Regions from separate parts of the Homo sapiens genome. Here region 2 is linked to region 1. A link means that fine-mapping ties the variant in region 1 to the expression of a gene that starts in the linked region. Tissue or cell type: atrial appendage. Region 1 holds a variant in brackets; the other region holds the start of a gene. All regions are shown on one strand. Distances are from middle to middle.

The links. PIP is the estimated chance that this variant, and not a neighbour inherited with it, causes the effect.
Region 2: it holds the start of PACRG, and the variant in region 1 is fine-mapped to the expression of PACRG in atrial appendage (GTEx, PIP above 0.99). The same link has a PIP of 0.9 or more in left ventricle.

What each region holds. Positions count from the first base shown.
Region 1 is chr6:162,442,315-162,453,301 of GRCh38, reverse strand. It overlaps PRKN (parkin RBR E3 ubiquitin protein ligase), which reads left to right. Exons shown (of 12, transcript NM_004562.3): 2 at 9,829-9,992. Among named protein-coding and RNA genes, the nearest start is that of LNCR-SMAL, 210 kb to the right of the region's middle. The variant G/C (reference allele first, on the strand shown) is at 4,863.
Region 2 is chr6:162,722,773-162,733,759 of GRCh38, reverse strand. PACRG (parkin coregulated) reads right to left here and starts at 5,786. Exons shown (of 5, transcript NM_001080379.2): 1 at 5,369-5,786. The coding sequence starts at 5,524. It overlaps PRKN (parkin RBR E3 ubiquitin protein ligase), which reads left to right and starts at 5,994. Exons shown (of 12, transcript NM_004562.3): 1 at 5,994-6,098. The coding sequence starts at 6,092. RefSeq lists silencers at 6,166-6,387, 5,877-6,416.

The DNA.
Region 1 (10,987 bases):
TGGAGATACACCCTCGTCAAAGAACCAAAGCTGTTTCCTTGAGGCTATGCGCGATGTCCTCATCAGTTGCTATGTTCTAAGACCAGGGTCTCTTACTCCCTGAGGAGGGTAGGAAGTCCTCATTCTGTTTCCAGCCGGGGAACCTGGAAGTGGCAGGAGACCTTGACATTCCCAGTCTGGCCCGATGCAGTACCGGGCACCTCTTCCACCTCAAGGAGGGAAGGAGTGGGAAGGCTTGGGCTATGATTCTTGAGCCTTGCGATCCACCTTTTCAAGTGGTGGCAGCATAGTCTTAAGTTTCTCTCTTTTTGTTTTTTCAAAATAGTTTTGCCTTTGAATCTATTTTTTGTGATATTAATAATATTGTCATCCCTGCCTTCTTATGATTACATTTTACTTGGCGTATTTTTTATTCATTTATTTTGAAACCATTTGTGTCTTTATATCTAAAATGCAGCCCTGTAGACAGAGTATAGCTGGACCCACTTCCCTCTGTCCACGTAGTCCCTGCCTTTTAATTGGAGTGTTTACTTCATTAAAATTTAATGTAATTATTGATGTGGTGAGTTCTGGTCACCAGTTTATTGTATTTTTCTATCTACCTCTCTATTTTTCTTCCATTCTTCATTATCTCCTGCCCTTTTTGGAAGGATTATTTCAATATTTTTTGGAATTCCATTATGATTTTTGCTTGCTTTTTGGGTCAATATTTTTATTCATTTTGATTTTTACTATAAGAAATATAATGTCTGTCCTTAACTTCTTAGTTTCTTCATTGTTAATATTGCTCCACTTCATAAAATAAATAAAAGACCCATATTTACCCCGCACCTATTATGCCATACTTGGCATACATATTATATGTTCTAAACTCCCCATGGAATAGAATTTCTGCTTTACCCAGTCATCTGCATTAAATAAATTATGTTGAATAAAGCAAAAAAATTCCTACCTAATTATCTTCTGTATTTAGCACTTATGATGCTTTTACTGTTTCTTGTGGATTTGAATCTCTGTCTTGTACCATTTCACTTCAGCCTGAAGAGTTTATTTGATATTTCTTGTGATATGAGTCTGCTTGTGATAAATTATCTTAATTTTATTTAATCTTAAAATATCTTTATTTTATTCTCATTTTTAAAAGATATTTTCACTGGATATAAACTTCTGCATTGACAAGCATTTTTTGCTTTTTGTTTTCTTCCTGAACTGTAATATTGTGCCGTCACTTCTGGACTCCATTGTTTCTGACCAGAAGTTAACCCTTAATTACATCATTTTAACCCTGTATGTGACAGACAAACTTTTCTTGTTGTTTTCAAAGCTTGTTCCTTGTCTTTGGCTTTCCATAGTTTGACTATGCTATGATTTGCCTTGACACAAGCACGTTCATATTTATCCTGCTTGACATTTGTTGAACATCTTGAATATGTAAATTTATTTATTTCATCACATATTAAAATTTGAGGGCATTATTTTTTGAAAAATTTTTCTGCCCCATTCTTTCATTTTTTCTTTGTGACTCCAACAACATATATATTAGATCATTTGATATTATCTAATATGTCCCTAACATCTATTCATTTAAAAACAATTCTTTATTCTTCACTAATGCTTTCCTCTTTAATCTCCATTTGGGTATTAAATTTATTTAACAGATTTTTATTCCAGGCAATTGTAGTTTTAGTTCTAGAATTTCTATTTGATTCTCTCTCTCTCTCTTTTTTTCTTTTTTTTAAAATAGAGCTAAGGTCTCACTGTATTGCTCAGGTTGATCTCAAACTCCTGGGCTCAAGTGATCTGCCCGTGTGGGCCTCCCAAAAAATTGCTAGGAGTGAGCCACCATGCCCGGCCTGATTCCTTTTTATAATTTCTATTTCTCTGATTATCTGTCATATCTTTCCACTCATTGCAATTTTTTTTTTTTTTTTTTTACTCCTTTAAGGACAGTAATACTACTAGCTCCTTTAAAATTTTGTTTCCTAGTTTCAAAATTAGAGTCATTTCAGGGTTTTGTCTCACTTGATTTTCTTTTCTCCGAGAATGGTTTACTTTCATGGTTCTTTGAAATGTTAGATACTTTTAAAATTATATCGCAGACATTATAAACGTAATTACTGGAGACACTGAATTCTGTAATTTTTTCTCCAGTGACCCTTGGTTCTTTGTTTGTTTGTTTTGGAAGACATTTATTTTGGTTGATCTTGAAAAGAAAATCTGTTCTTTGTGTGCAAGTCTGATCTCCATCTAGATCTTTTTCTTTAATATATATGAACATTTATTTTACAACAGTTTTAGTTTTACAGAAAAAGATGCAAAAATAGTACAGGGAGTTCCCATGTACCCCACACCCAGTTTCCCTATTTTAAACTTCTTACATTGTTATACTACATCTGTTATCATTAATGAAAGAATGCTGATACATTCTTATTAACTAAAATTCAAACTGTATTTGGATATTCTTAGTTTTACCGAATGTCTCTTTTCTTTTCCAGGATTCCATCCAGGCTACCACATTGCATTTACTCATCTCCTTAGGCCCTTAGACTCTAACAGTTTCTAAAGACTGTTCTTGTTTTGGATGACCTTGAAAGGTTTGCGCAGTGCTGGCCAGGTGTTTTTTACAACGTCCCTCAATTGCGTTTTGTGCGATGTTTTCGTGAAGATTAGACTGGGCTTATGTGTTTTTGAGAGAAAGCCCACAGAGATAAATTGCCCATTGCATCACACTGTGTCAAGGGTAAACATGATCAAGATGACTTACCACTGTTGATGTTGACCTTGATCACCTGGCTGCGGTAGCGCCTGTCAGGTTTCTCCACTGTGAGGTTGTTTTTGTTCCCCTTTCCATGCTGTATTCTTCAGGAGGAAGACAATCACAGGGGTGTTACAATCATAGGGGCGTTTACATTCACAGGGGGATTACAATCACAGGGGCGTTTACATTCACAGGGGGATTACAATCACAGGGGCGTTTACATTCACGGGCGTTCATATTCACAGGGGTGTTACACTCAAAGGGGCATTTACAGTCATAGGGGCGTTTACATTCACAGGGGATTTACTGTCACAGGGGCATTATACTTCACCTCCTTGAGCACATCCTTCCTTTAGCTGAGCAACTTTGAGTCTGATAACGCACCTTCATCATTCAGGGGTTAGCCAGAGACGTGGATAGATAGAAATTTGGGTTTCTCTTTCTGACTCATTTTCTTCTGTGTCTCCTCGGAGGCAGGTGTCCCAGTCTTGGTGTTTTGCTTCTTCAGCCAGAAAAACTGTGGCTTTGCAACCAAAGTGCCTGCTGGCCCACATGCCATGTGCACGGACTGCACCTGGCTTCAAGCCTAAAGCTGTGAGAATGGGCACTCCCTTTACGTAACTGTACTTCTCCTGATGTGGACCCCCTAACTAGAAATCTTCATTTTTTTTGTTCACTCTTCTATGGCTTTTCAAGAATCTGCTTTCTTTAGTGAAGTCCCAATTTTATAGTAGTTTTTTTGCAGGAGGGTTGATCCGATAGCATTTAATAATTCATTATAAAAGGCAAAAATCCTGGCCTCTATGTATAAGTGGGGAGATGAAATGAGGCTTCCTGTCACAAAGATCTTCAAAGACAGAAATAAAGAATTATGAAACAAGCTACTAGAGGATGGTATCATACAGCATATACTCAAGTGCTAAATGAGTATGCAGGTAATAGTTATAAAAATAAAAATAAATAATAAAATATAAAACATAAAAATAGCAATTAAAAAATAAAAAACGAGCTATAAAAATGCTTGTAGCTAGTAATAATGCAGATCCTTATAACAACCCAATGAAGATGAAATTGCACATGCAAGGTCACTTAACATTGAGCTATGAGTCCAAAGATGCAGTTCTAGAGATTTGTGTTCCACCACAAATTATTGGGTAGGGAAATAGATTGCTGTAGATGAGATTAGGTTAGAAATGAAGGACTACCGTTAACAAAATTTATTGATGGATCAAAGAGGGTAGGAATAAGGCAAAGCACTAAGACAGGTGTAGGAAGAGAATGTTTATTTTATTTATCTACTGGACATCCGTGTAGATATCAAATGCTAGTAGATGCAATTATCTGAAGTTCCAGTGAGGGCCAGGTGTGGTGGCTCATGCCTGTAATACCAGCACTTAGGGAGGCTGAGGCGAATTGATCACCTGAGGTCAGGAGTTCGAGACCAGCCTGGCCAACATGAGGAAACCCCTTCTCTACTAAAAATACAAAAATTGCTGGGTGTGGTGGTGGGCATCTGTAATCGCAGGTACTCGGGAGGCTGAGGCAGGAGAATTGCTTGAACCTGCGAGGCGGAGGTTGCAGTGAGCTGAGATCGTGCCACTGCACTCTATAGTGGGAGACAGAGTGAGATGAGAGAGAGAGAGAGAGAGGAAGGGAGAGAGAGAGAGAGGAAAAGAAAGAAATAAAGGAGGGAGGGAGGAAGGGAAGGAGGGAGGGAGGGAGGAAGAGAAAGAAAGAGAAAGAGAAAGAAAGGTCCAGGGAGATGGCAAGTCTGGAAATAAGGATTTGGGAGTTGATGACATATCCATTGCATTACAGCCACGGGATTAGAGGAGGTCACCTGGGAGAATACACAGATTCAGACTCCTGGGATGCTCCAAAATCTGCAGGGCCAATAAAGGGAGAGAATCCAGAAGAGGAAGCTACAAAAGTATGTCCTCTTTTGTAGGGGAAACCAGAAGGGTTTCTCTGGCGGGTGCCAAGAGAAGAAAGGATGATGAGAACAGAAGCCAACTATATTGAATGTCCCTGGAAGGTCAACCTGATAAGAACTGAAATGTGATGACAGGATTGAAGTGTAGAGCTCATTGCTTTACCAAGAGCA[G/C]TCTTCAAGTGTTGGCTCACGGAAGAGTATAAAATAAAGAAATGGAGACCAGGGTGATAAGAAATTCTCAATGAAAATTTCTATATAGAAAAATGGGGTAGTAATCGCAGGAGGGTGTGAGGACAGGTTGGTTGGTTTGCTAAAGTTAGGGAATACTAGATTTAGTGATAGTTCTCAAAGGTGCAGAAGAAACTTCCCAGGCAAGGGACATTTGGAAACATGTGGAGTTACTTTTGTGTTGCCGCAATTAACCGGGGCGTGCCTCTGATACTTACTGGGCTGCAGGTGGAGCCGAACATCCCACGGAGCTTAGGAAACCCTCTCATGAGGAAGAATTGCCTGCCTTCAGTGCACTGAGTCCATTTTTGTGCTCATGTTAATGGTCTATCTTGGGCTGTGATTTTCTTTGGGTCTCTCAGCAAAACTGTCTGAGGCATCACATGATGTTATTTGCCATCTAAAAGGACTTCACCGAACCTTTGACAGTTCTGGATATGACTTTGATTAGTCCACCTTATGTCACCTGTATTCTGCAGAATCAATCACTGGAACAAGGGGAGTGCCAGGCACAGATTGGCTTGCATCATCCCTGAACCAATCATTTGACCAATGACAAGGAGGATGGGGCTGTGCTGATGAATGACATTGCTCTTCTCAGTGCAGGAGGCGGAATGGCTGCTTGAGGAGCAGCCAGAATCATTTAAGAATCATTAATTATTGATATTGACTACTATATTTATGAAGTTTATACCCTGGTCAGACTTGGTAAATAAAATTGTCTTAAAAGAAATATAAGGGCCCATCCACCAATAACCCTTTCCCCTCTTCCCACCCATTCACTTCCTTACTCTCTGGGACTTCTCAACCCTGGTTAGGGATATCATAAAAAAGGAATCTGGATATATCTCATTATGTTTTTTGTTATCAGTGCATTATGATGTTGATTGATAATACACATGATTGATAATGTTTACTGGTATGTTGTTTGTTTCTGATACTATATTATACGTCATCAAAACAATTATTAAAACAATGCATTTCCAAGCTTTTCATATGTAATTAAACCTTAGAAAGTAGAGGTGAGCCATATTCTCTATCATATCTCTTGGTCTCTGGAAGTTTTCTGTCCACCAAGAGGAGCAGAATCCAGAAAAATTGGCTACTTTATTTAGTATTTACCCACATCCTATCTAATCTCCCTTAGTTACCATGCAAGCAAAGGACACTGCTTTCATTAGCTCTACCTCCTCTAGGTGCCTAGAATAGGGAACTATTTTTGGAGCACACACTTGCCCAGCACTAGGAGGATAGGCCCTGTACTAGTCTCTTTCTGAGATTTTCTAATACATCCATAATCTCAATAAATCTTGTGTAACAGACATTGGTGTTGCATCCCTTATACCGATTTATTAGATCAGGAAGCTAACAGTCAAGGTGGCCAGGTAACTTGTCATAAAATTAGCAAGCGTTACAACCAGCATTCAAATTTCTCTTTATGTAGCTCTAAAGACGTTCTGCCTTCTGTGACTTTAAAGAGGTAGTAGGTGGGGAGAACTGGGTACTTCCTTCCACTCCTGTTTTGGAAATCATGGCTGGAGTTCAGGGGCTGGTACAGATGGGACATGACATGTTTCCCACATATGTCAGAAAAAGGTTGAGACCCACTCAAATCACATTACTGCCATTCAGCACTAGCCATTTTTCACATAATGGCACTTGATTATGAACTCAGTGAGTTTCTTAAGATGTTTTTTCTTATTCATGCGAATGTTTTAGTTGGTCAAATATTATGTATTTGGTTTATCTTTCCATTTTAAATTTATATTGTATGTTAGATTTACTGTTAAAAATATTCATATCCGTAGTATTTATGATTTATCTAAATACTGTAACTTTAAATCTGTAACTTTTCTATTATAGAAAAAACTTGTATATACTTAGGATTTCAGTAGTTGGACAGAGGTATCTTTAATATTTTTTGCAGTTTCCCTTTACAAAAAAACTCTCATCCTTGCAGTAGGAGTTCCATGATTTGAACCCCTGGAGCAAAATCATAAACTTAGGATCTCCTGGAATTTTTATCTGGTTTTATAGCAGCTTTGGCACAAATTCCAGCCACTTCTTCCCACATTCCTTCCTATGGTGTTTTACTTTAAATCTATTCTCACTAGTAGAAAATGAAATTTAGAACTGGGGTCATATCTTTTGTCCCTATAGCCCCTAACTTGTCATGTGTCTTTTCTGATGAATTGGTTGTCTTATGGTCTCTGATCTGAGGATGCTGTGAAGATACCTCAGGGCTTCCAATACATTTTTATTTCTTCCCCTCTATTTTCAAAGGCGTCAAATGAAATTGACTTAAAAGTGTATCAAAAGCACCTTTTCCTCCGTAATTAGTATTTTTCATGAATTTTCTTTATTTGGAGCACTTTGTCACTGGTCGTCCTTCCTTTTTCTAAACACTTTCCGTGCTGGTCAGAGATGTCAGGCCTTTGTTCTTGTGGTGCCATCTGGACCACCTGCCCTCACTGGAGTGTCACGTCTGTTTTGGGGCCCATGTTGTTCATGGTTATTGTTCACGGTCCTTTGCTCTTAGCTCCTCACTGGAGCTTTTATTTATTTGTACTGCACACCCATATAGGGAATATCTGATTTATGTCATAAAGCCTTTTTATTGTTATCTTTTTAATCATGAGGGATAGAAATGTGGACTTTTTTTTTTTTTTTTTTTTTTTTTTTTTTTTTTTTTTAGACAAGGTCTCTGTCACCCAGGGTGACTGAGTGCAATGGCACAACCATAGCTCACTGAAACCTCTAATTCCTGGGCTTACACAGTCATCCCACCTCAGCCTCCAGAGTAGCTGGGACTGCAAGTGCACGCCACCACGCCCTGCTGATTGTTTAAAAAAATTTTTTGTAGAGATGGGGTCTCACTTTGTTGCCCAGGCTGGTCTTGAACTTCTGGGCTCAAGTCATCCTTGCCCCTTGGCCTCCCAAAGTGTTAGGATTACAGGCTTGAGCCATTGTGCCTGGCCTGGACTTTTCTTCTGAGATGGTTTCAGGAAGCCTATTTTAGTAGAAATGGAATGAGCTTTAGAGTTAGATTGAAATAAATTTGAAACCCAGTTCCATTAGAAAGTAATTAATGTCCTTAGAAAAGTGGGTCCCATTCCCTGTGCCTTCGTTTATTATTCTGTAAAATAAGGATAATAATAGGGACCTGACCAGATCACTGGGAGGCTTAGAAAAACCATATGAGAGCACAATGTCTGGCACATAGTAAGTGCCTGATTATTATTGGCATTGTAATGATTATTATAATTATGATGAGGTGGGTCATCTCACATTGGTATTGAGAAATAATTAGCTATAGTACTACATTTAAAGGAAACACAGCAGTAAATAAACAATAACACTTGCCCTTGAGGAGTTTGTTATCTTTTAAAGAAGGCAAAATGTATATCAAAAACAGCTAAATGTCCATTATTTTTAAATGTTACAAGACGATAGTTTTAAATACTATAAATATTATTTAATGAACCGAATAATATGGTCTGTGGTTTATTTATGTTTTCAAGATAAGGGAACTGAGACCTAAAGAGGGAGGTTAATAGATTGACCCCTAGCATCCTAAGCCAATTAAAGGAGTCTGTGGGGATTTTTCATAGGTCTTCCTAATGCTTCAGGATGTTCTTTTAACCCGTGTGCTATCCTGCTTCCATGAGGAATGTGGTGAATATTAAAAGACATATATAGTAAATGCCACTGGTGCCCTGAATAAGGAAGATCAGGCTTTTGCAGTAGCTGATAGCCAGAAGCTTCTTGGGGGAGGTCACATTTGAAGTGGGCCATGGAGGTAGGCAGGATTTCAATAGGAAGAGGAGAAGGAGGGAGGTCATGAATAAAAGCAAGAAGTTGTGTGCAGCAGTTTTTTGTGATTTTTTTTTTTCTGGGAGCATTTAGTTTAAAAGAGTACACATGGAGATTAATGAAGAAAATGCTGGAATGTAGGTTTGTGCTAGATGAAAGGGATCTTGGAGTCTTTCCTCACCAGCCGACAGTGTGAGACTTAAAGGATTTGAGTGGTGTGACATAGCTCTGTATTAATAAGGCTCATTTTGCAGAACTATGTAGGGCCTTTTGGAGGTGATGGCGTGGATCAAGACTCCAGTTGGGGGCTATTATGAGACTCTAGAAAAGATGTGATGAGAGCGTGACTTCAAGCAGTGAGAGAAAGAATGGAAAGTAAAGGGCAGTGAGAGACGCTGAAGAGGTGGGACAGCAGGTGCAGTGAGAAGACGGCATGCAGACAGACAGACTAGAGGATGCAGCCTGGGTCTCACGGGGAACAGTGGCTTCAATAAGACAAATGGTGTCACTAGTGTCTCCACCCCCTCCCTGCCAAAAAGAGGGCAAATAATTGTCTTCATAGACCCAGTGGAGCATTTTGGCCAGGACCACCCAAGTCTAGGGCTCTGAGCCATAGCCCCGAGTGGGTCTTCACTCTGGTCTATAGAGCAGCTTAGATTTTTTTCCATTGCTATACCTTGAGTGCTAACACATCGCCTCCTATTTTTATTAAGAGGGTCACTGTGGAGGGAGTGTGAGTGTGTACATGCTGTCAGAGCTGAGTCTTTTCAATAAACTCATGGGACTCTTTCAATTCCAATCAAGCAAGTGTCCTGCTCAAGTCTCTCTGTTTCCCAGGATGGATGTCAAAGGGAGAATGCAATTTTGGTTTGCAGGTCACTGACGAATATATGAAAGGGAAATCTCGTGGGTAACTAACTCTGTTTTTCCCAAATATTGCTCTATAGCATTAAGTTTTTTGTTGTAAGTGAAAGAAAATATATACCATTCACTGAAGGGCTGCGAGGGGTAAATCGGTTGAGAAATGTTGCTATCACCATTTAAGGGCTTCGAGTGATGCTCACTTTCTCTTCTCCCTTCCAATTTCCTTGGTCAGTGTTTGTCAGGTTCAACTCCAGCCATGGTTTCCCAGTGGAGGTCGATTCTGACACCAGCATCTTCCAGCTCAAGGAGGTGGTTGCTAAGCGACAGGGGGTTCCGGCTGACCAGTTGCGTGTGATTTTCGCAGGGAAGGAGCTGAGGAATGACTGGACTGTGCAGGTGAGTCTCCCTTGGCGGCCGTTCTTGGGATGCCGCCAGCTCCATTGCTCATGCCGCCTGCGCTGCCAATCTGACATTCATGCCTGAGATCTAATAGAATAAATAGTGCCTGGGGATTCCTTGAACTTTACTCCACACTGCTTCATTAATTCTGACCTTCTTAATTATGCATTAAAACAGCAAGCAGGAAAGATTGGAAGAACAACTGCGAGTGAGAAAGAGAGAGAGAAAGAACACACGAGCTAGGCTTAGTGAATAAATGTCTACTGACTACAGGAGCAGCAAGGCACAATTTCTGTGTCTGTTCAATTTCTACCTTACTTATTCCATTTGAATCTTAACGAAGAAGGATTCGAATAAATTGTTCCCAATCAGGCTGCTCAGTCCCTGCACTGTGAGGAATTTGTAACCCAATTGTGACCCCTGGAGGTTAGTGAGGGCTGCTGCTATGCTGCGCTAGAGGAGGTGTGGGCTCCGGGGCCCATTGGCAACTAGCTTTGGGCACTCCTTGGCCAGGACCAGAATCGCACAGTTCTGCAGCTGATGGGGAAGGAAGCCTGGAGCACAACAACAGTATACCTTTGCATGAATTTCTCCAAGGTTCAGTAACATTGTCCCTGGAAATAGGCCCCTGCAACGTAATAAGTGTGAACGATGCTCTCTTCTCTCCTGGCCCCAGCAGAGCTTCTGGCAGCCCACTGCTCCTAGCCCCATGAAAGCCCTACACACATGTCATTCGGATTGGTGATTTTTGTAGGAATTAGGGGGACTGGTGAGGTGACTGATAATACCACCATCACCTAGAACTAGAGACCCGTCCTTTGTTGGGGAAACTCGCAAATACAACTCAACATTTGTTGACGCTATTCTTTGTGAATGCAAGAAAGACGAAACGCTTTCTGGGAATGGTCCCTGTGACTGTGAAGGACCCTGCAGATGTATGTTCCCCTTTTCTTAACCAGCATCAATTAATTGCACTCAGGTTTACAGCTGTG
Region 2 (10,987 bases), 280 kb before region 1:
ACAGGGTAAAATGCATTTCAGGCAGAGGAAACAGGAAGGGCAAAGGCGTGGCACTAACTGAGTTCCGGAGGCAGGGCCAGCAGAGTTGCATAAAGCAGCAAGGGTGGGCAGATCACACAGGGCCTTCCCAATAGAGGAAGCTTAGCTTTTACTCTGAGTGAGGCAGGGAGCCACCTGAGGGGTTGAGGTGACGAATGCCATGATTCGGCCTTCTCAAGTTTTAAAGGGAGCTTCTGGGCTCCACAATTAGAGAGGATGGCTTAAAAAAATTCAAAATAGAGACAAATAACAATTATAATAAGAAAGTAGGAGAATATGAGATAAGAAGAAAGGGTAGAATTGCTTTCCTTCATTCATCAAATATTTATTGAATACACTGTTAGGTTCTGGTTAAGATTAAAAAGTGACTTAGATGTGGATACTGCCCTCACGGAGAATTTACATAAGGAGATAAAACATGAGCAGAAATGACCATAATACAAAGTAGAACACAATGAATAAAGGATAACTTTCTATGTGGGTGACAGGAAGGGAGAATTAAAGAAGTCTTCTTAAAGCAGTTGGCATTTTGCTGGCCACAAAAATATAAGCTTCTTGACAGCATGTGTTCTGTCTTTTGCTGACTGCTAAATTCCTAGCATTTAAAACAGTGCTTTGCACATAGTCTGTGATCAATAGATATGTGTTACCTGATGATAGAATGAATTTGTATATGCAGATATGTAGGGAGAAGGGTGTTCGAGCAAAGGGAACAACATAAACAGAAACACAAAAATAAAGAATATGAGTTTATTTCCTTGGTTCAGATTGACTGAAGCAAATGAGAACAGTGGGAGATGAAATTTTAGAACACAGAATGGGATTAGATCACACAAGACCTTGCTGGCCCTGGGGAAGTATCTTGACTTTTTTTCTATAAGAATTGGGAAGCTCCAAAAGCTCTGAATAGTGATAGGAGCAGAACATTGTACCAGAAAGATTAGTGTAATTGTACTGATAATTGATTGAGGGAGTCAACCAATTGATAGGTGGATGATATTGTACAAGCCTAGACAAAAGGTGATGAGGGCACCCATTAGTTCATCGCCACTTGGTCCCTTCATCATTAGTACTTCTCTGCCAGAGACATCTGTTTATTTGTATTGTAATTATTTTACTTGTCTCTCTCCTTTTCTTCACTAATAATGTAGCACATTTAGCACTGGAGCTAGACACTTCTAATTATCCCCCAATATTCCTTGGCTACAGTAATAAAACATTGTGAGTTTGAGCCGGACACAGAGCTACCAGTTAAAGACTACATGTCCCAGCCTCTCTTGCAACTAGCTGTGGCCATAAGACTAGGTTTTGGCAATGGATTTGAGCAGGAGTGAGGATTGCTGTTTCTGGGACATGCCCTCATAGTGAAGCTGTTTGCTCTTCATTTCTTCCTGCCTCATTCTTGCAGATTGCTCCATACCCATTTTTCTCTCCTCCACCTGAAGTAGGTGTTGGAGATGATGCCCTTTTGGAACTACATAGCTTCCTTCATCCTTTTCCTGAGGAGACAGGTACGTGGGCTTGGGAGTTGCTTCATGGGTCAAGCTTTCATAGGCTTTTGCAAAAAGGGAAAATGTAGGTGTATTTATTACTAGGTTCTGGCCAGTTGGATGAGAATGAAAGTGGGGTGCTGTGTCTGGGTCATGCACATAATGGGAAGCTCTCTGCTTCCACTTTCCTCCTTCTTGAGGGCAGGTATTTGACCCTGGTGGTCTCGAGCCCCCCTTGTCTCAGGTGTCATTTTACAGGATGCAAAGAACAAACATGCTCCTATGCCCCTGCACCTGCCTCATGGGGAATGCTGCCCAACCTCCTGGGATTGCCTACAAAATTGAACTTCTATTATGAGAGAAACAACTTCCATCTTAATTAAGCTATTGTTATTTGGTCAGTGTTACAGAAGCCAAATTAATATTTTAATATATAATTTATAAATATTGATGATTACCACTACGTGTTAAATGAGCACATGATTGGTAAATATAAAACACACTATACATGTAAAGTATAGGTTGAACTATCCCTTATCTGAAATGCTTGGGACCAGAAGTGTTTTGGATTTGTTTTTGTTTTTTGTTCAAATTTGGAATACAGTCATCCCTCAGTCTCCATGAGGAATTGTTTCCAGGACCTCCTGCAGATACCAAAATCTTCAGATGCTCAAGTCCCTGATATAACATGGCGTAGTATTTGTATGTAACCTACACATTTCTACCTATATACTTTAAATCATGTCTATATTACTTATAATATCTAAAACAATATAAATGCTCCATAAATAGTTGCTATGCTCTATTGTTTAGGGAATAATGACTCAAAAAAAAAAGTCTGTACATGTTCAATACAGATAAAATTTTTATCCCAAACATTTCAATCCAAGGTTAGTTGAATCCATGGAGGCAGAATCTGTACAAAGAGCTGACTATATCTGTATTATATACTGATGGTCACGCCAGTTCTGAAAATCTGAAATCCAAAATGCTCAAAAGAGTTTTCTTTGAGTGTAATGTCAACACTCAAAAAGTTTTGTATTTTGGACCACTTCAGGTTTCAGACTTTTGGAATAGGAATACTCAACCTTTAATATTAAAAAAATTATTTATTCCATTCCCCTAAACTTTGAGCATAAAGCATCTATAGTCTTTTGAGAAGGAAAGCTGTAATAGAAAGCTTAGGCTGAACTCAACTTCTCTGTCACCATAACCCTGGGTCGATTTTCTAACTTGCTTCGTGATAAGCTTGTTCAGCACAGAAAGTATCTGACAAGATAAAGACAACAAAATACTGGGTTACTAGTTTCTGGTCATGGGCTCTATCACACCCCAAACAAGACTTTTAAAGGAAAATGAACTATGAAATCTTCAAGTTGTGTATCTCATATCTCTTTATAGGCAAGCACTATAAAAATGTGAATTTGAATATTATTTCATTGCAGGGCTTTTGTGATGCTTGTTTTCTTATAGAATGCAACAAAAATTTCATGGAAAGAAAGTCTAGTTTCTATTGAAGAAAAATATTTGACATTGAGATTTTAAAAATTTTGCCATTTACATTTATCATTATTTTTTCAATAATCTTGCACTCTCATATCCAGATTGTTTAAATAAGCATTTCTGCTTGCACAGCCCATTTGATGAAACATATTTATTATCAAGTTTATGTACTTGTATCACTATCGCACTCAGAGAAATATCAGGAGTCTCTGTATAACTCCTTATGATATATACAGTTCTTCATGTTTTAGGTGGAAGAGCATTGGAATGTTGACTTATCTAACTGGAAAAGTGGTTTGGAGGGTGTTGGCTCTTGGAGCATGAGGTTGCAATTAAGAAAAGCTGGAAATTGGCATACACGTCCTGAATCAAAATACACCTTCAGAAAGAGATGAGGACATTTTCACCTTATAATGCTGAGAAGTCTATACTGCTAAAGATAAAAATGGTGAAATGTAAATATTGGTTATGAAATTGAAAATTTTTATTTCCTGTACCACTGAAGTTATTTTGTATAAACGGTATTGTCCAGCCTTCTTTTATCAAGATTTGAATGTTGTTATTTTGGTTTTCCTCGGAGTACTAAGGGCAGGGACTTTGCTTTGCTGATCCCAAATCCCCAGAACTGTGCTTAGCAAACACTGGGTATTAAAAAAAAAAAAAAGAGAGACAGTTGTTGACTGAATAAATAGATGAATGGATAAATAATGTTTGCATTTAAGAATTACGATTTCCAATGGCAAGAGAGGTATTGCTAGTACAAGATTTTCCTTTAGAACATAAAAAGAGAAGATAATGGATCTCAATTAAGTTGTTTATAAAGAAGCCTGCTTCATAATCAATGTTTTTTTTAAGTCATGTAGGCATACTTATTACATTTGGCAATACAGAAACATCAGATTTTGCAGAACTATCTCTTTAGGTGTAAGATTATATTAAAGAATTAATATGATACAAGAATTATGAATACAGGTTTAGGAAAAAACAGAAAAGAACCCCAACCAGTAAAAAAAAAATTAAAGTATAACATTAAAAAACATCAAAATTGTAAATATTGTGTAGAAGAAAAACTAAATGATTAACCTGAATGGTTATGGTATTGCTGATAAATGCATCATCTTGACTCCTAGGAGAACCAATTTATGTGAAATTCCATGAAAAAGAATTAGTTACAACAAGCAGAATTTTAGTCCATTTCCAAGAATTTTAACTACTGTAAATCACCTGACACACTTCCCAATAATTAGGATATCGTTTTGCATAGCCACATGGGAACCTGGCCTAGAGGTCTATAGGTAATCTGTTTCATTCATGTATTTTAAGTATGTCGTTTAGGAATAAGTTATCAGGTTTGCAACCTATAAGCAAAGGAAATAATGTGACACTGGAAAACAACACTATTCATTTAACATAATGAATTGCCATGTAATAACTCAGATCTTCCCAGGGTGTAAATTACACAAATTTGAAAGATGCATTTATTATTTAATGCCTCATTCCCAGACAGTTGCTTACTCAGTAGCAAAATCTGTCTTAGCATACCAAGTGTAAAGCTATTTAACAAATAGGAAGGTTTAAAAAATATATACTATCATGCAGACAGCTAAAATATTTGTATATATTTTTAATCTTTTTTCTCTAATGATACTTAGAATATTTTATTTTTATTACTACAAATAATAGAGATGAAATATGAATTGTATTAGTAGCAGAGATATATGAGCTAAAGCTTGTATTGTTTAAAGCACATCATCTTAAAAGGCCTGTCAGGAAACAGTGTTCATATTAAGTTGGCTTTCAGTACTCTAAGAAGATGACATCATTTTGTAAGAGACAAGTGTTGTTAGAGCAAATGCTAGGATATTCTAAAATTTCCTAGGTTGAAGTGAAGAAATTTCTCATTATAGATTATTTCATGAGTTTATGTTCCCGGTTGTATATCAGCTCATGTTAAATTTTGCAAGAGTTTATGATTTCTAAGAACTCACCTTCTATAAGGCCCTTTGCTGAGTGGGGCTAGTTAGGAATTAGTAAGTAAAGGGGATCTTTTTTCCTCGTGTAAATAGCTTAAGAGTAATTTTGGGCGGTCCAGAAACCATAAGTTATCAGGAAGGTGCTTATAAATGGGCAGAGTACATCACTTGCCCAAGATTCTAACAACCTAGCCTGCCCCCCACACACTGTGGGGCACCGTTTGCTACTTGCCAAGTAACTGCCTTTTTTGGCAAAGACCACCCAGGACATGGCTCAGAGTCCATCCTAAGGCTGGCCAACCTCTGTAAATCTCGTGTCCCCTGATTCAGAGCGAGTGCATTTAATTCAGGAAGATCACTTACGACTGAGTTTTTCATCATGGCTTTGACTGTGAAACCCTCAGAAACCAGAGAGTGAGGCTGGTGCACCGGGAGCGGCTGTTGTGCCAGCAGCTTGGTCCTCTTCGGCATCTTGTCTGGGCATTTGTTTAAGCTCAGGGTCTCTTTTTCTGCCACCATCTTCCTAGAAAATGTCTTGTTCTCATAAAAAGTGTAGTAAAAGAATCAGTGGGCTTTACGGATGTGAGCAGGAGGTCTGGAAAAAAATATCAAAAGGCGCGATAATGGTAGAAATTCAACCCCTCGTAGTGCCCAGGTTGATCCAGATGTTTGGCAGCTCCTAGGTGAAGGGAGCTGGACCCTAGGGGCGGGGCGGGAAGAGGGCAGGACCTTGGCTAGAGCTGCAACAAGCTTCCAAAGGTAAGCCTCCCGGTTGCTAAGCGACTGGTCAACACGGCGGGCGCATAGCCCCGCCCCCCGGTGACGTAAGATTGCTGGGCCTGAAGCCGGAAAGGGCGGCGGTGGGGGGCTGGGGGCAGGAGGCGTGAGGAGAAACTACGCGTTAGAACTACGACTCCCAGCAGGCCCTGGGCCGCGCCCTCCGCGCGTGCGCATTCCTAGGGCCGGGCGCGGGGGCGGGGAGGCCTGGAGGATTTAACCCAGGAGAGCCGCTGGTGGGAGGCGCGGCTGGCGCCGCTGCGCGCATGGGCCTGTTCCTGGCCCGCAGCCGCCACCTACCCAGTGACCATGATAGGTACGTGGGTACCTGCCAGGTACAGCCTCTCTGCGCCGCCCCACGCCCCGGTATGGCGCCACGCCCCGCCTCGGCCGACCAGGACCCCCGGTGCCAACTGTCAATGACGGGGCCAAAGTGCCCGTGCCGTCCCCGGCCCGCGCCGCCGGGCTCCCCAGCTCAGCGACGCGGGTCCGGGGCCCCAGTGTGTGCGTTCGAAGCCCTCGCCTGCCCGCCCCTGCTCTGAGCGTTCTCATGAAGACCGCCTCGACGGGGACGCCAGGCGGCCCCGCACCCCCGCTCCTCGTTCGCGGTCCCCCGGACCGTGTGGGGTCCCGAAGCCTTCTCCCCGCCGCCGCCCCTCACCTTCGCCCCGCCGCCGCCCCTCACCTTCGCCCCTCACCTCACTGGCCGGTTGTGGTGCGGTTCAGGACCCATCGAGACCCACTCTCTGTGGGGCTCTTTCAGGAAACCGCAGCAAAGCATTAAACTCTAATGGAAGGCACCTGGTGAGGGTGGCTGGCTCCACAGAAACTCCTCCAGATAGATCTAAACTTGCTCCCTCGGATGTTTCCTTTTAAACTTCTCATTGGAGGGCTGAGATGAAAGAAACATTAAGAGTAAATAGTAGCCAAGATTAAATCTATTGCCTTTTGCAAAATAACCTTTCTTTTTTTTTTTTGTAAAAGAACGACCGAGGTGCAAGTTTGTGAACGAAACTTAGTGGCATCAGAGTTGTTCATGAACACTTGATGTGTAAGATGAGCAAAGGTCCTCTCTTCCAGGGTTGTTGAGCCAAAAGTTACTTTAGGGGCTATCCCTGAAAATTAATGGAAATGCACCATATGTTTGAAAAACAGTGCTAGATGGGGTTTCATTATTGTGGAGGTTTCTCCAGGTTATGTATGGAGGGTTTAGTGAGCTTGTTTATTCCTGAGGAGGGTCCTTTACAAAACACTTTTGATTGCAGTAAGTACGTTCGAAGTCAGATGTGGTCTGTCCAGAAGAAAGATGAGAGGTGGATTTATAAAGTATATGATCTTTATGCACTGAAAACACTTCTTACATCTGTTTATTTGTGAAGTTATTGTTAAAATGTAAACATTCTCCCCATCAGTGGGAGAATCAAGCCAGCTAACTGGCATGGTCTTTGTGGTAAAACAAGAATGTTGTCCAACTTTTCTTCCCTTTCTAGCATGGTCTGACTTTTGGTGAATGACTTGAAAGTTAATCAAATTACGAAAAAAATATTTTTTATGAGTCTTCTTGAGCTCTTTTTAGGTGACATTTACGTAAGATTCACTTGCAAGCACAAGTTTGAACTGAATCAGAAAACCAAGTAGAAGAGATTTTCCAATATCTGTGCTGTCAGTCTACAGGAAGAAAATAGCCTATACCTTATTTTGAAGACAGTTAAATACATTTTATTTTAATTTAACTTAATCTAGTGCACAGATAATTTTAAGAGAAACAAATTTATTGTAAAGCTATATAAAGACAAGCACTTAAGATCTAAAGAACATTACTCAGTTATAAGTTATGACCTAATAAGTGATTATATAAATAACTTTATTAGGATGAAATGTGTTTGGACAGTTCTGTTTAGTTTTATCTGGAATTCTTCCAATAAGGAAGAAATATCTTTGGAGTTGATGATTAAACAGTTATCAATTACTGGTAATGACATGGAGAATATAAGGTTGGTTTTTAAAAGTGTTATTTCTCTCACTCCAGCCATGGTTTTACATAGTGCAAATAAGTGTGCAGTACAACATAAATGATTAAATCCATGCCTGCTTTCCCTAGGAAATGTGCCTTACATATAAGATCATGGACAATGTGCAATAAAATATTCAACTAGTTGCATTGCCTAATTCTGAAATTAGACACACGTCTTTTTTTTTTTTTTTTCCTCTTTTTGAGACAGGTTCTGTCTCTGTCACCCAGGCCGGAGTGCAGTGGCACCATCACAGCTCACTGCAGCCTCCAACTCCTGGGCTCAAGTGATCCTCCCATCTCAGCCTCCTGAGTAGCTGTGACTACAGGTGTGTGCCACCATGCCTGCCAATTTTTTGTTATAGTTTTTGTAGAGATGGAGTTTCATAATGTTGCCCAGGCTGGTCTCAAACTCCTGGGCTCAAGCAATCCTCCCGCATTCGCCTCTGAAAGTGCTGGGATTACAGGCATGAACCACCACGCCCAGCCTCATTAGCCACATTTCAGTAAACATCTGAATGGTCAGTTTGGGATTTGGGTGTCGTGAACAGTGCTAAAGGTAGGTGAAAGTGAAAACCATTAAAAGGAAGCCTTGGAGTGATGGGTTTTGTGTTTTTGTGACAAAAATTCAGAGCCAGGAAAGACATTATAGACTTTATCCAGTGATCACTAAAATGTAAATAGTATGTATCTGGGATTTTCTGTTAAAGGTAAGAGTGCTTCTCAAAGCTTGCTCCTTTCAGGCCTATGCTTTCTCTAACTATTACACTCACCTTGTTGCGGGATTCGGGAGTATGAGGGAGACCTCAGGTTGAAGCAGGAGAATCTTTATTGAGTGTACTCAGGCCCAGCTGACTCACATCCAAAAGACTGGGCCCAGAATAAAGACAGTACTTGACTTTTATACACACTTCACAAACGGAGGTGGGCTAGCTTGAAGCAAGCTTACAGTGGCGTGAAAGCAGGGATACAGAGGCAGGACAAAGACAGGATTGCAGATGACCATTGCCAAGCAACCCAGATGTTCGTTTTCTAGGTTTGCCTGGGCACAGGCTTATCCTATAACCTTCTCTGTGGTGCCCAGGCAGCTGTAGTTCAGGCCTACTCAGGCTTTTTATGACCTTCGTTGTACTACTTAGATAAAACAGAATACTTGAAATCACTAGTTACAGAGAACAAGAGTCTATAAACTCATTCTGTAAAACAAAGGAAAATTTGTTTTTCTTCTCCCTGTGTTGAGGGAGTGCTGAGAGAGTCTCCAGAGCATATTAGATAATATTATCAAGACTTTTCCTGGGTCTAGGCTGTGCCTGTTGCTGCTTCTGGAACAAGTTAGCCTAAAACAGGAAAACTTATTTCTCTTTCTTTTTAATTTTATTGTTCTTTAATTTCCCGCCTCAACCTTACTGCGAATAATATTCTGCCACTTTATTTAAATCCTGGCTTAGTTTAAGGAGAAACGTAAAGATGGGTTTCCTGGTAGAATAGGAGTAAACAGGACTGACTGTGACCTCACTGCTAATGACATGTACCTTCCTTTTACTTTCTCAAAACCGAAGATTCCCTTATTGGCATGAGGACTGTTTCAAAAGTACTTACATTTCCCACCTGCATTGTGATTGATGTGTTGAATGCCCTGACCCAGGCAGCTACAGAAACATAATTTAATTGAAGTCGGTTAAAAATTGTGCCTTTGTGGAAAGTGTGGAGAAGGACTTCAAGATGATATAAAGCAGAATAGAAAAGCTTAAAAGAATTCAATTTAGAAAAATGTAATTTTTGGTACCTCTATTAAAAATATATTTTGACTTTTTTAAAAATGAGCAATTCTTTGTGTTTAAAATGGAATGTTAGTGGGGATATTTGTGGTATGTTCTAAATGTTCTGTAGAACTGGATTTAGGTATTTGAGTAACAGCAGATATTAGAGTGCATGGTTATATATACAACAATGTTGTCAGTATTGAAATACACATTCAGTGTCTTAGACTTTTAAGAAGATTTTTGATTGACAAAAACCATTCATTGGAACATAGTCTCTTCTATACCTTGTTTCACTTAGCATCTCTTTGAGAATTTACATATCTGCATGTCCAGATCCACTCCACAGCGATTCCTGCCTAGTCTTTTATAGGATACACTAATTATGAAAATATTTACCAATAAATAAGCACTCATTAGGTTTACAGACAACTGTTGTCAGAAGTGTTTGTGGCCATATCTTTTTACTTGCACATGTAAGCATAGATGTAAAATAAAAATCGTATGACAATTTGAGTTAAAGAGTTTGTAGATTTTACATTTTCCTAGGTATTTCAAAATTTTTCCAAAATAAGTTGCCCAATTTTACAAGCCTATCTAAAGCCTCCACTAATACAACATGGTAGTAAAGAGCTGCCCTGCCCCTCTGGGCTGAAAATTGCCAAAAGACGTCCTTCCTGAGACTGACTCAGCTTTCACTAGCAGAACGCCTCCTGGATCTCCGGTCCCCCACCTCTCTCTCACCCTAGGGGTAGTGCCTTTCAGTGTACAAGCTGCACAACTGTCCTTGGTGGCCCTGCCCTCCCTTTCAGTGTGTATAAGAGTGCCCATTTCCTCCCATGTGCCATCGAAGATTTTTTATTTTTGCCGTCTTGACAGATGAAAAACAGTATCTTTTAACTTTTCAAATTAATTTAGAAGAAAACTTCTCATTCTCATCTTATAGTGCGTTAGTTTTGCAAAAGCAGATCCAGTGATTCCAGCACCTGCTATGTACCCTTAACTGCTCTAGGTGCCAGGGAAACGAGGGAACACAACAGAAAAAGTCCCTTGCCATCAGGAATGTATATTCCGACTTCACCATTTGGCTACACATCTGCATATTTGTTTTCAAGCTTGTGTGCAGTGAATTTTAAAGTCTCAATTTATATTTCTAGTTGAATATACTGTGTACTGCTCTTTGCCCTGCCATTTTGATAAGTTGATGAAAACCAGCTCTATGCCTAAGTACCCCAAAGCTTCTGTTTATAATGAGGTAAAATTGTGTCAAAAATAGGCTCTACTAAAGTTTTGCATAGAAGATTTTATGTAATTATATAATAGTTCTTCCTTGGGTCCAAAGGCTCTAAAATGACCCTTTGCCCTTTACAATTTTGGCCCTATTTCTGAGGATGTTTTTGAAGTCTGCATTTTTTGAAACCTCATAGTTTCATT